2 separate regions of the Homo sapiens genome follow, and region 1 is linked to region 2. Evidence: fine-mapped expression QTL. A gene starts in region 2. The other region holds a variant in brackets. All regions are shown on one strand. Distances are between the middles of the regions. Region 1 holds the start of ZNF552 (zinc finger protein 552). Region 2 holds the start of ZNF154 (zinc finger protein 154).

Region 1 (5,371 bases), 100 kb after region 2:
ACACTGTCTCTACTAAAAATACAAAATATTAGCCTTTGGGGAAAAGAAAGAGAGATCAGACTGTTACTGTGTCGATGTAGAAAGAAGCAGACATAAGAGACTCCATTTTGTTCAGTACTAAGAAAAATTATTCTGCCTTGAGATGCTGTTAATCTGTAACCCTACTCCCAACCCTGTGCTCCAGAAACATGTGCTGTGTCAACTCAAGGTTAAATGGATTTTGGGCTATGCAGGACGTGCTTTGTTAAACAAGTGCTTCAAGGCAGCATGCTTGTTAAAAGTCATCACTACTCCCTACTCTCAAGGACCCAGGGACACAAAACACTGCCTAGGAAAGCCAGGTATTGCCCAAGGTTTCTCCCCATGTGATAGCCTGAGATATGGCCTCATGGGAAGGGAAAGACCTGACAGCCCGACGCCAGTAAAGGGGCTGTGCTGAGGATTAGTAAAAGAGGAAGGCCTCTTTGCAGTTGAGATAAGAGGAGGGCATCTGTCTCCCGCTCATCCCTGGGCAATGGAATGTCTGGGTGTTAAAACCCAATTGTATATTCCATATACTGAGATAGGAGAAAACCGCCTTAGGGCTGGAGGTGAGACATGCTGGAGGCAATACTGCTCTTTAAGGCATTGAGATGTTTATGTATATGCACATCAAAAGCACAGCACTTTTTTCTTTACCTTGTTTATGATGCAGAGACATTTGTTCACATGTTTTCCTGCTGAACCTCTCCCCACTATTACCCTATTGACCTGCCACATGGTAGAGATAATGATCAGTAAATACTGAAGGAACTCGGAGACTGGTGGCGGCAGGGGGAAGGCAGGGTTCCTCCGTATGCTGAGCGCCAGTCCCCTGGGCCCACTTTTCTTTTTTTTTTTTATTTTTTATTCTTTATTGAGACGGAGTCTCGCTCTGTTGCTCAGGCTGGAGTGCGGTGGCACAATCGCGGCTCACTGCAAGCTCCGCCTGCCGGGTTCACGCCATTCTCCTGCCTCAGCCTCTCCGAGTAGCTGGGACTACAGGCGCCCGCCACCACGCCTGGCTAATTTTTTTGTATTTTTAGTAGAGACAGGGTTTCACCGTGGTCTCAATCTCCTGACCTCGTGATCCGCCTGCCTCGGCCTCCCAAAGTTCTGGGATTACAAGCATGAGCCACCGCACCCAGCCCACTTTTCTTTCTCTATATTTTGGATCTGTGTCTCTTTCTTTTCTCAAGTCTCTCATTCCACCTGACGAGAAACACCCACAGGTGTGGAGAGGCAGGCCACCCTTCATTAGCCGGGCATGGTGGCACATGCCTGTAATCCCAGCTACTCAGGAGGCTGAGGGCAGAATTGCTTGGGCCTGGGAGACAGAGGTTGCGGTGAGCCAGATCGCACCATTGCGCTCCAGCCTGGACAACAAGAGCGAAACTCCATCTCAAAAAAAAAAAAAAAAAAAAAAACAATGGAGAAGGCCAGGTGCAGTGGATCATGCCTGTAATCCCAGCACTGTGGGAGGCAAAGGCAGGCGGATCATGAAGTCAGGAGTTTGAGACCAGCCTGGCCAATATGGTGAAACCCCATCTCTACTAAAAATACAAAACATAGCCAGGCGTGGTGGTGCACGCCTGTAGTCCCAGCTACTTGGGAGGCTGAGGCAGAAGAATTGCTTGAACCTGGGAGGTGGAGGTTGCAGTGAGCCAAGATCGCACCACTACACTCCAGCCTGGGCAACAAAGTGAGACTCTGTCTCAAAAAAAAAAAAAAAAAAAAAAATTAGCTGGGCATAATGGCATGCACCTGTATTCCCAGCTTCTCAGGAGGCTGAAGCAGGAGAAGTGCTTCAGCCCAGGAGGCAGAGGTTGCAGTGAGCAGAGATCAAGCTACTGCACTCCAGCCTGGGCAACAGAACAAGACCCTTTCTCAAAAAACAAACAAACAAAACCAAAAACAAGAATGAAGGAGAAAAGACGATACAGAAATCATGTGTGCTTACTTGTCTGGCCCCAAAAATACTACTGAAATAGAAGAGGTTTCTGTCATGATTTGAATAAAACTCTTGACATCATGCACCACTGTCCTAGGATGCTATTTTTCAGGGACTCAGAACCCATAATGCTGAGGCCAGATTCATTTGCATCTTCTGACCACAGAAGATGATCCCACCACCAAGATAACCAAGTACATGAGACATACATGATGTAAGAACAAAGGGAAAGACAGAACAAGGAAACAGCCAACACTGGCTTAGAACAACTCAGCACATGACAGCAGACAGGAAACAATATTACAAAAAGAATTTCTGTTTTTTGAGACGGAGTCTTGCTCTGTTGCTCAGGCTGGAGCGCAGTGGCACAATCTCAGCTCACTGCAACCCCTGCCTCCTGGGTTCAAGCTATCCTCCCACCTTAGCCTCCCAAGTAGCCAGGATTAAAAGCGTGTGCCACCACACCTGGCTAATTTTTATATTTTCAGTAGAGATGGGGTTTCACCATGTCGGCCAGGCTGTTCTCGAACTCCTGGCCTCAAGTAATCCACCTACCTTGGCCTCCCTGAGTGCAGAAATTATAGGCATGAGCCACTGCACCAGACCTATGAAGAGAATTTCTAAGGACGGTATTACAAGAACAGTCTATAGTCTATGTAGGCAGTGACAATGTCAATGAAGACAATTCCTGGCACAGGGAGGCATGAAGAAATAACAGGTAGAGGAATGAATTAGATCCCGAACCTGAAATCTGGATGAAATCACACAAACATCCACAGGACAAACAAGGTAGCCTGCATTAAGTTGCCTGTAAGACTTCTGACTCTGAATTCTTCCCTGGGAGCTCAATAGCAGGTGTTGGGGCTGCTCCAAGAATGGAGAGGGCAGTATGCATACCTCAGTCCTACCAACCAAGAACTGAAGTAGGAAGCTGTGTCCATGCTCCTGACATGAGAAAGTCTTGCCAATAGAAAAAGAGGGGGAAAGACAGAGACTAGCTCAGGTCACAGGGGTGAGTGTGGGCAACTTACCCAGGGAGGACATAAGTGCCAGGTTCTCCAGCGTCACATCACGGTACA[G/A]GCATCTCTGAGCCTCACTAAGGAGATTCCATTCCTCCTGGGTAAATTTCACAGCCACGTCTTCAAAAGTCACTGTGCCCTGTTATGATGTTGACAGATGAAACCACAAACCACCCCTATGCTGAGGTATCACAATCCATCTCTCCCACACATCTACTCTCGCACATCCTCCTCTCAAGGTCCTCAAACATAGGAGAAACTAGGCCCACTGGTCATGGGGTACAGCCACCAACAACAATAGTTAGTTGAACAAATAGGTATCTGTGCGGTGGCTGTGATATAAGAGTCCACCCCCTCCTGACAGGCACTTCCCCTAGTATGGCCGAGGTCATGGAAAGCCCAATGTGGCACCTTCAGCACAGCAGAGATACCCTCTCTGAACGCACCTCATTCTTTTTTTTTTTTTTTTTTTTTTTTTTTTGATACGGAGTCTCGCTCTGTCACCCAGGGTGGAGTGCAATGGCGCGATCTCGGCTCACGCAACCTCCGCCTCCCGGGTTCAAGCGAGTCTGCTGCCTCAGTTTCCCAAGTAGCTGGGATTACAGGCATGCGCCACCACGCCTGGCTAATTTTGTATTTTTAGTAGAGACAGGGTTTCTCCATGGTTGGTCAGGCTGGTCTCTACCTCCGGACCAACCCGCCTAGGCCTCCCAAAGTGCTGGGATTACAGGAGTGAGCCACTGCACCCGGCCCCACCCTCCACTTTCTTGTATGCGTTCCTTAAATGCTTCTACAGCCATAAAGGCCTGAGGGAAGAGGCTGACTTTACAGGACTGTGTCCCTGATAGGATCTGGTAAGCTCAGGCCTCCCTGAACGCTTTTGTGTCCACGGAGCCAGGTGACCTTGGACTATTGTCTAACCTGCGTGTCTCAGCACAAAGTGTCATCTCTACCACCTATATGATCTACAAGGATTCAATCTCAAAGGGCCCCAACGTCATCCCCTCTCTACTCTGTTATTTATTTGGCCTTTAGGAAACTTTAAAAGCCTGGACTTTGATCCAGTCCCTTCTTTCTTGGAAATTCTCCTATTTCTAGTGTCCTCGCAATGATTTCACAGCCCCCAGCCTCCTTGCTTTTCCAGGAGGAGTTCCGCCTCACAGGTTGTTCCCTACAGGCGCCTGTGGACCCCAGGTTCCATCCTCCCGGATCCGTCCATCTCCAGGCCATTGCCCGCGCCCCTCCCTGTACCTGTCGCTCTCCCCACCGCATCCCACGGGTGTCTGAAACAGGGATCCCTCCCGAGAGCGCCTCAGTGTCCCGACGCCGGGTCCGGGTTGCAGAGCCGTAAACAGGTGCCGCTCCCTCGCTGCTTTAGGACTTGTGTGACTAGGAGGTGACCGGAGAGCACGGAAGGCGCCACAATTACCTGAACGGGGAACCTTAGCGCGGCCGCCGCCATGGGACCACGTGGGGTAAGCTGGGTTGAGAGCAGCGGGCGCCGTTAAAGAGCTGCAGAGTCACGTCTGTGCAAAGAGAAGAACGACTCTCGACCTCCTGGATCCAGTCACCACCACGGTCCCAACACAGCGCTCCAAGGACTCCCTAACGCCAATGGAAATGGTCGCTACTAAAGGGCGCCGGGAGTCCCGCCTCTACCTTACTTGCGCACACGGAAACGCCTTCAATGTGAACTCTCACTGGCTCTGCCGTGCTGTCATTTGACGCAGAGCTTTCTGGGTAATGTAGTTTCCCAGGTTCCAAGGCCGTAAAGAGAGAGATTCCCAGGGGCGCTTCGGAAGGAAAAGCCCAGCTCCACCTCCGGGGCCCTCAGGGAAGCCTCCTGACCCGCACGGTGGCGCGCGCCTGTAATCCCAAATTTTGAGAGGCTGAGGTGTCAGGACTGCTTGAGCCCAGGTGGTCCAGGCTGCACTGAGCTATGACTGCACCACTGCACTCCAGCCTGGGCGACAGAACCTGTCTCAAAAGAAAAAGAAATGTTAATTAAGCGTTTGTGCTGTTAAGGGAGGAGACCACCTCTCATATTGTTTTATGCCCAATTTCTGCCTCCAAAGAAACAAGTAAAAACTAAAAGGCAGAAATGAAATCCACAGGCAGACAGCCAGGTGCCAACCCTGGGCCTGGTTAAAGATCGACCCCTGACCAAACCGGTTATGTTATCTATGGATTCCAGACATTGTATGGAAAAGCATTGTGAAAATCCCTGTCCTGTTCTGTTCCGTTCTGATTACCACTGCATGCAGCCCCCAGTCGTGTACCCCCTGCTTGCTCAATCGATCACAAACCTCTCATGTGGACCCCCTTAGAGTTGTAAGCCCTTAAAAGGGACAGGAATTCCTCACTTGGGGAGCTTGGTAGTTGG
Region 2 (5,371 bases):
GGCTGAGGCAGGAGAATTGCTTGAAGCCGGGAGGCGGAGGTTGTGGTGAGCCAAGCTCGCGCCATTGCACTCTGGCCTGGGCAACAAGAGAGACACTCCATCTCAAAAAAAAAAAAAAAAAATAGAACAACCCTTCTAAATGTAATCCACAGCTCACTCACCTTAGTCCACACAATGACCACCACATTTTGGATGTCTCCATTCTGAAGCACTCCCCAGATTTCCAGACCTGGGTGTTCAGCCACCTACTTAATGCCTACTTAATGTCTCTGAAACATCTCAAACTCTTACATGACCAAATAAAGCTCCTGTTGTCTCCAGTGAATATTACTGTTAATACCAACTTCTCCATCTCAGTTGAAGAACCATGGGGTCATCGCTGAATCCTGTTTCACTCCCTCGCTGTCTACATCAGAAAATTTAGTTGCTCCCTTTAAAAATTTGCATCCAGAATGCAACACATCTCCTAATCAATGACTCTGGTCCATTACCCTGGACTGGCTGTAGCTTCCACTCTGATCTTCTTTCCTCTTCCCTCAACCCCACAGTCTGCTCTCCACGCTAACGGGATGGACCCTGTTAGGACTTTGGTAAGATCACCTCCCTCTTGTAACCCAAATCTCTCATTACCTCCAGAATAGGTACCCAACTTCTCAGGCAGCCACTGCAGTCCTGACTCCTTCCCCCTGCTCTTTGTTCCCAGCTAAAAGGAAACAGATCTATGGTTTCCTCAAAAATCTCAGCTTAGTTTTACTAAGCACTTGCGCCTCCTGATACCAGTGCCAGAGATAACCTTTCACAAGTTTCCACTGGCTGACAAAAATGGGAACACCTCAGTATAACCCCTGTAACCTCTGGCATGGACTTAAGAGCCCTGGGCTTGGAATTTCTCCAGGGCACCAGACCCAGGATTGGGGTAACAGCACTTAAGAATACTAGGAAACCACAATCCCAAGAACATGGGGGTAGAGGCTACTGAGGGACCGAACACTCTCCACTTCCCTATGTGAGTTCCATACGCCCTTCTACAACTGGGAGAACCAGGGAAAGAGGAATGCATCCCTGGTGAGGCTAGATGAGCTCAAGCCTCCCTGTAGCCCTGCCTGGCCCTGAACTCAGGCTGGCTGTTTTACTTTCTGGTCTCAGTGCTGTCACCTCTTGCCAACTGTAGGGCAATGAAAAAAAGATGTAGCCTCCCACTATCTCAATGTCCTCATCGCCCCATCGCTGCTCTTCCTGTGAACAGTCTTTGGAAAAGTTTTTAAACCCTAACATAGGGCGGGCACGGTGGCTCACGCCTGTAATCCCAGCACTTTGGGAGGCCGAGGCAGGAGGATCACTTGTCAGGAGTTCCAGACCAGTCTGGCCAAAATGGTGAAATCCCGTCTCTACTAAAAATACAAAAAATTAGCCGGACGTTGTAATCCCAGCTGCAGGCTTGTAATCCCAGCTGCTGGGGAGGCTGAGGCAGGAGAATCGCTTGAACCCGGGAGTCGGAGGTTGCAGTGACCCGAGATCGCGTCATTGCACTCCAGCCTGGGCGATAAGAGCGAAACTCCGTCTCAAAGAAAAAAAAACTAACATAAATGGCGTCCCTCCTTTGTTCAGAACTCTCCGTGGCTTCTAGCATCCTCACAATGACAGTACAACCCTAGGAGTAACTCCGCCTCATATTCTTCGTTCCCTGCAGAAAACAGCTTTCCGAATTCTCCTGGCTCAGTCGCGCCTCAACCTTTGCACGCGCCGGTTCCTCCGCCTGTCACGCTCTCCCACACCTCGTCACACGCAGTGTCAAAAAAAGGGCCCCACCCACGAACGCCTCAGTGTCCCCGACCCTGGGCAGCGGGGACTCGAGCAGGCGCCCCTCACTGATGGCTTTAGAACGTGGGTGGGGGAAGGTGTGTGAGGACGGGAAGACGCCGCACTCACCTGAGTTGGCGTCCTCAGAGTGGCCGCTGCCATCAGACTCTGCGGGTAGAGCTGGGCCGGGAGCGACGGGCGACATTGGTAGGGACCCGGGGACAGCGGTCCCTATCCCAGGCCTGACGTGGGTCCCCCAGGGCGGCGTCGCCAAGGCTTAGACGCTTTCGTGCAGGAGGGACGACGACTCCCCTCACGCCTTCGTGGCCCCAACTCGGCGCTCTGCTATCTCTGATCCGGTGAACACACCTCAGAGAAGCTAAAATGGCCGCCACGAAGAGGCCCCCCCAAAAGTCCCGTCCTTTCTTTTTGTGACTCTCAAGGAAAGTCGGTTTTCTGAGCTCTTACTGGCTTAGTAGCGTGGCGTTCAACGCAGAGCATTCTAGGTAATGTAGTTTTCATAGATCCCGAGGTGGGTGCCGGGGACCCTTTGCACCAACCTCTTGGAGTAAAAGCGAAGCTCCAGGGCGCTGGGCGATGAGAAATGGCTTATCCAAGTCCTAGGGCAGTGGAGGGACTTCGCCCTTTCTTAAATGGGTCGTAATCAGACAGCATATTAGAGGTGCCATCTGCAACTGATCACCCAAGTGTTTGGGGAATATTATTTCAAACTTCATAAAGTTCAGCAGGCTCCCAGAGGCTAAAATTATTATCAGACGCTCCCTAAGGCTGCCAATCCAAATATGTACATCATTCCATAGAGCCATTCAGACACGAAATATATCCACTAGTAGGGAAGCTAATAAACATTACCATATAAGTTTATTCCTTTTTTTTTTTTTTTAAGACAAAGTTTCCCTCTGTCCCCCAGGCTGGAGTGCAGCGGCGCCATCTGGGATCACTGCAACCTCCGCCTCCCGGGTTAATCGATTCTCGTGCCTCAACCTTCCAAGTAGCTGGGACTATAGGCGCGCGCCACCACGCCAGGCTAATTTTTTGTATTTTCAGTAGAGACAGGGTTTCACTATGGTGGTCCCAAATTCCTGGCCCCAGGTGATCTGCCCGCCTCGGCCTCTCAAAGTGCTGGGATTACAGGCGTAAGCCACCGTACCCAGCCTCTATCATATTACATTTCAAATGTATGCACTCCGAAGCATTGAAGTCAGTCTGTGCACTTTTGGTCAGGGACAGGTGAAAAACTACTTCAGATAGTGGCATGATAGTGCTTCTAGAAGATAGAAGAGAAATGTTAGATCACCTTGAAACAGTAGTACAAAGGTAGAATTCTGTCTGATTCCAACAGAAAACATCTTTTGCCTGCATAGTCAATTATTGTGTCCAATTACTGTGTCCAGTCAATAACTGTGTCCAATTCACTGAGCAACGCTTTTATCCATTTCATAATTCTTACTTGATATCTGAGATATATTCCTTCTAGAAGTCTAACATCAATCTCAAAAAACAATGAAAGAAATGCTACTTTGATAAGAGACAAAGGGGAGAGGTGGGACTTCTTAATCAGAAAGCCGGTGAAATGCACTTGAAGGAAGTGAGAAATGAGCCATGTGGGTATTTTTAGAATAAATTCCAGGCAGAAGAAGCAGGTTACTAGAGTGCCTGGATGGATGGAGACTTCACAGGGCATTTCAGCATTGGAGGGCCTAGGGCTCCAACCCAGCAGGCCTTCATCTGCTTTGCTGGCTGCAGAGACACTCAGGGTATATAGGTGAGAAATCTCTTCTTTTTTTTTTTTCTTTTTTTTTGAGATGGAGTTTCACTCTTATTGCCCAGGCTGGAGTGCAATGACGCAGTCTTGTTTCACTGCAACCTCTCCACCTCCTGGGTTCAAGCGATTATCTTGCCTCAGCCTCCCAAGTAGCTGGGACTACAGGCGCACGCCATGACACCCAGCTAATTTTTGTATTTTTAGAAGAGACGGGGTTTCACCATGTTGGCCAGGCTGGTCTCGAACCACTGACCTCAGGTGATCCACGCATCTCGGCTTCCCAAAGTGCTGGGATTACAGGCATGAGCCACCGAGCCTGGCCGAGAAATCTCTGCTGCTTTGTTATAAAGTTTTGGAGCCGCAAAATAAATAGCACTCGAATATAAAATTTTCTTTTTAATTCTCAGCAAGGTAATGTACTTTTTTTTTTTTTTTTTTTTTTGAGATGGAATCTTGCTCTGTCACCCAGGTTGGAGTGCAGTGGCGCGATCTCGGCTCACTGCAAGCTCCGCCTCCCAGGTTCACGCCATTCTCCTGCCTCAGCCTCCCGAGTAGCTGGGACTACAGTTGCCCACCACCATGCCTAGCTAATTTTTTGTATTTTTAGTAGAGACAGGGTTTCACCATCTTGGCCAGGCTAGTCTTGAACTCCTGACCTCATGATCCACCCACCTCGGCCTCTCGAGGTGCTGGAATTACAGGCGTGAGCCACTGCGTCCGGCCCCAACATTTATTTTAATGTTCAGATTCTCCCAGATGTTTGGACAGTGGGAACTCATTAAAGCTGTGCTCTCTGCTTTTTTATGTCAATATTATTGATAATTTCATTACTTTCTAATCCAAAAATATTTTCAGGCTCATGTTGTACCCTTGCTATCCCAGCCCCAGAATCAGCCTCTTTTTCAAGGAGCTCTGGTTTTCTTCAATAGATAACAATGCTTGTAAATATTAGTAAGCATTAGCTGTGCTCTTTTCTACTGGTAAATCATTGATTATTAGGTCCTCTTGGAGAGAAAGCAGATACATACACATGCACGCACACATTTTTTTTTTTTTTTTTGAGACAGAGTCTTGCTCTGTCGCCCAGGCTGGAGTGCAGTGGCACGATCTCGGCTCACTGCAAGCTCAGCCTCCGAGGTTCACGCCATTCTCCTGCCTCAGGCTCCTGAGTAGCTGGGACTACGGGCGCCTGCCACCACGCCCGGCTAATTTTTTGTATATTTTTAGTAGAGACAGAGTTTCACCGTGTTAGCCAGGATGGTCTCGATCTCCTGACCTCGTGATCCGCCCGCCTCGGCTTCCCAAAGTGCTGGGATTACAGGCGTGAGCCACCGTGCCCGGCCACTTGCACACATTTCTATACAAATTTATTTCTACATCTATATTTACATCTGCAAAGACTTGAAAAATTCAGATATTTGAAATGACTCATGGGACTGAAAGCACTCTCTCATAAGGCTTTTATTTAAATATAAAGCATACAGTACAGCTAGAGAAAGACAGAACAGGCATCAGGGCTCAGAAAGATCTGGACCCATGACCCTCAGGATTCTTATTCACAAGTGGACATGCTTCATCTCTGGACTGTGCCACTAATATATATGGGATGGAGCTTGATTTCAGAAGAATTAATAACAGAAATTTCCAATAGGGACTTTTATGTCCCTCTGGCTGCATGACCCAAGCCAACCTAGCCATTTATGCCAGGTAAAAGCCAGCTGTAAAGACACGAAAAAATTTCAGAGTTTAAGCAGCACATTGTAACTCCCACTGCCTTTCTTTGCT

Evidence for each region. PIP is the estimated chance that this variant, and not a neighbour inherited with it, causes the effect.
Region 1: its variant is fine-mapped to the expression of ZNF154 in whole blood (INTERVAL, PIP above 0.99).

The regions. Positions count from the first base shown.
Region 1 is chr19:57,810,294-57,815,664 of GRCh38, forward strand. It overlaps ZNF552 (zinc finger protein 552), which reads right to left and starts at 4,620. Exons shown (of 3, transcript NM_024762.3): 1 at 4,418-4,620; 2 at 3,001-3,127. The coding sequence starts at 4,450. RefSeq lists enhancers at 1,236-1,887, 4,895-4,944. The variant G/A (reference allele first, on the strand shown) is at 3,049.
Region 2 is chr19:57,707,010-57,712,380 of GRCh38, forward strand. ZNF154 (zinc finger protein 154) reads right to left here and starts at 2,195. Exons shown (of 3, transcript NM_001085384.3): 1 at 1,930-2,195. The coding sequence starts at 1,962. RefSeq lists enhancers at 1,783-2,422, 2,166-2,295, 2,316-2,375.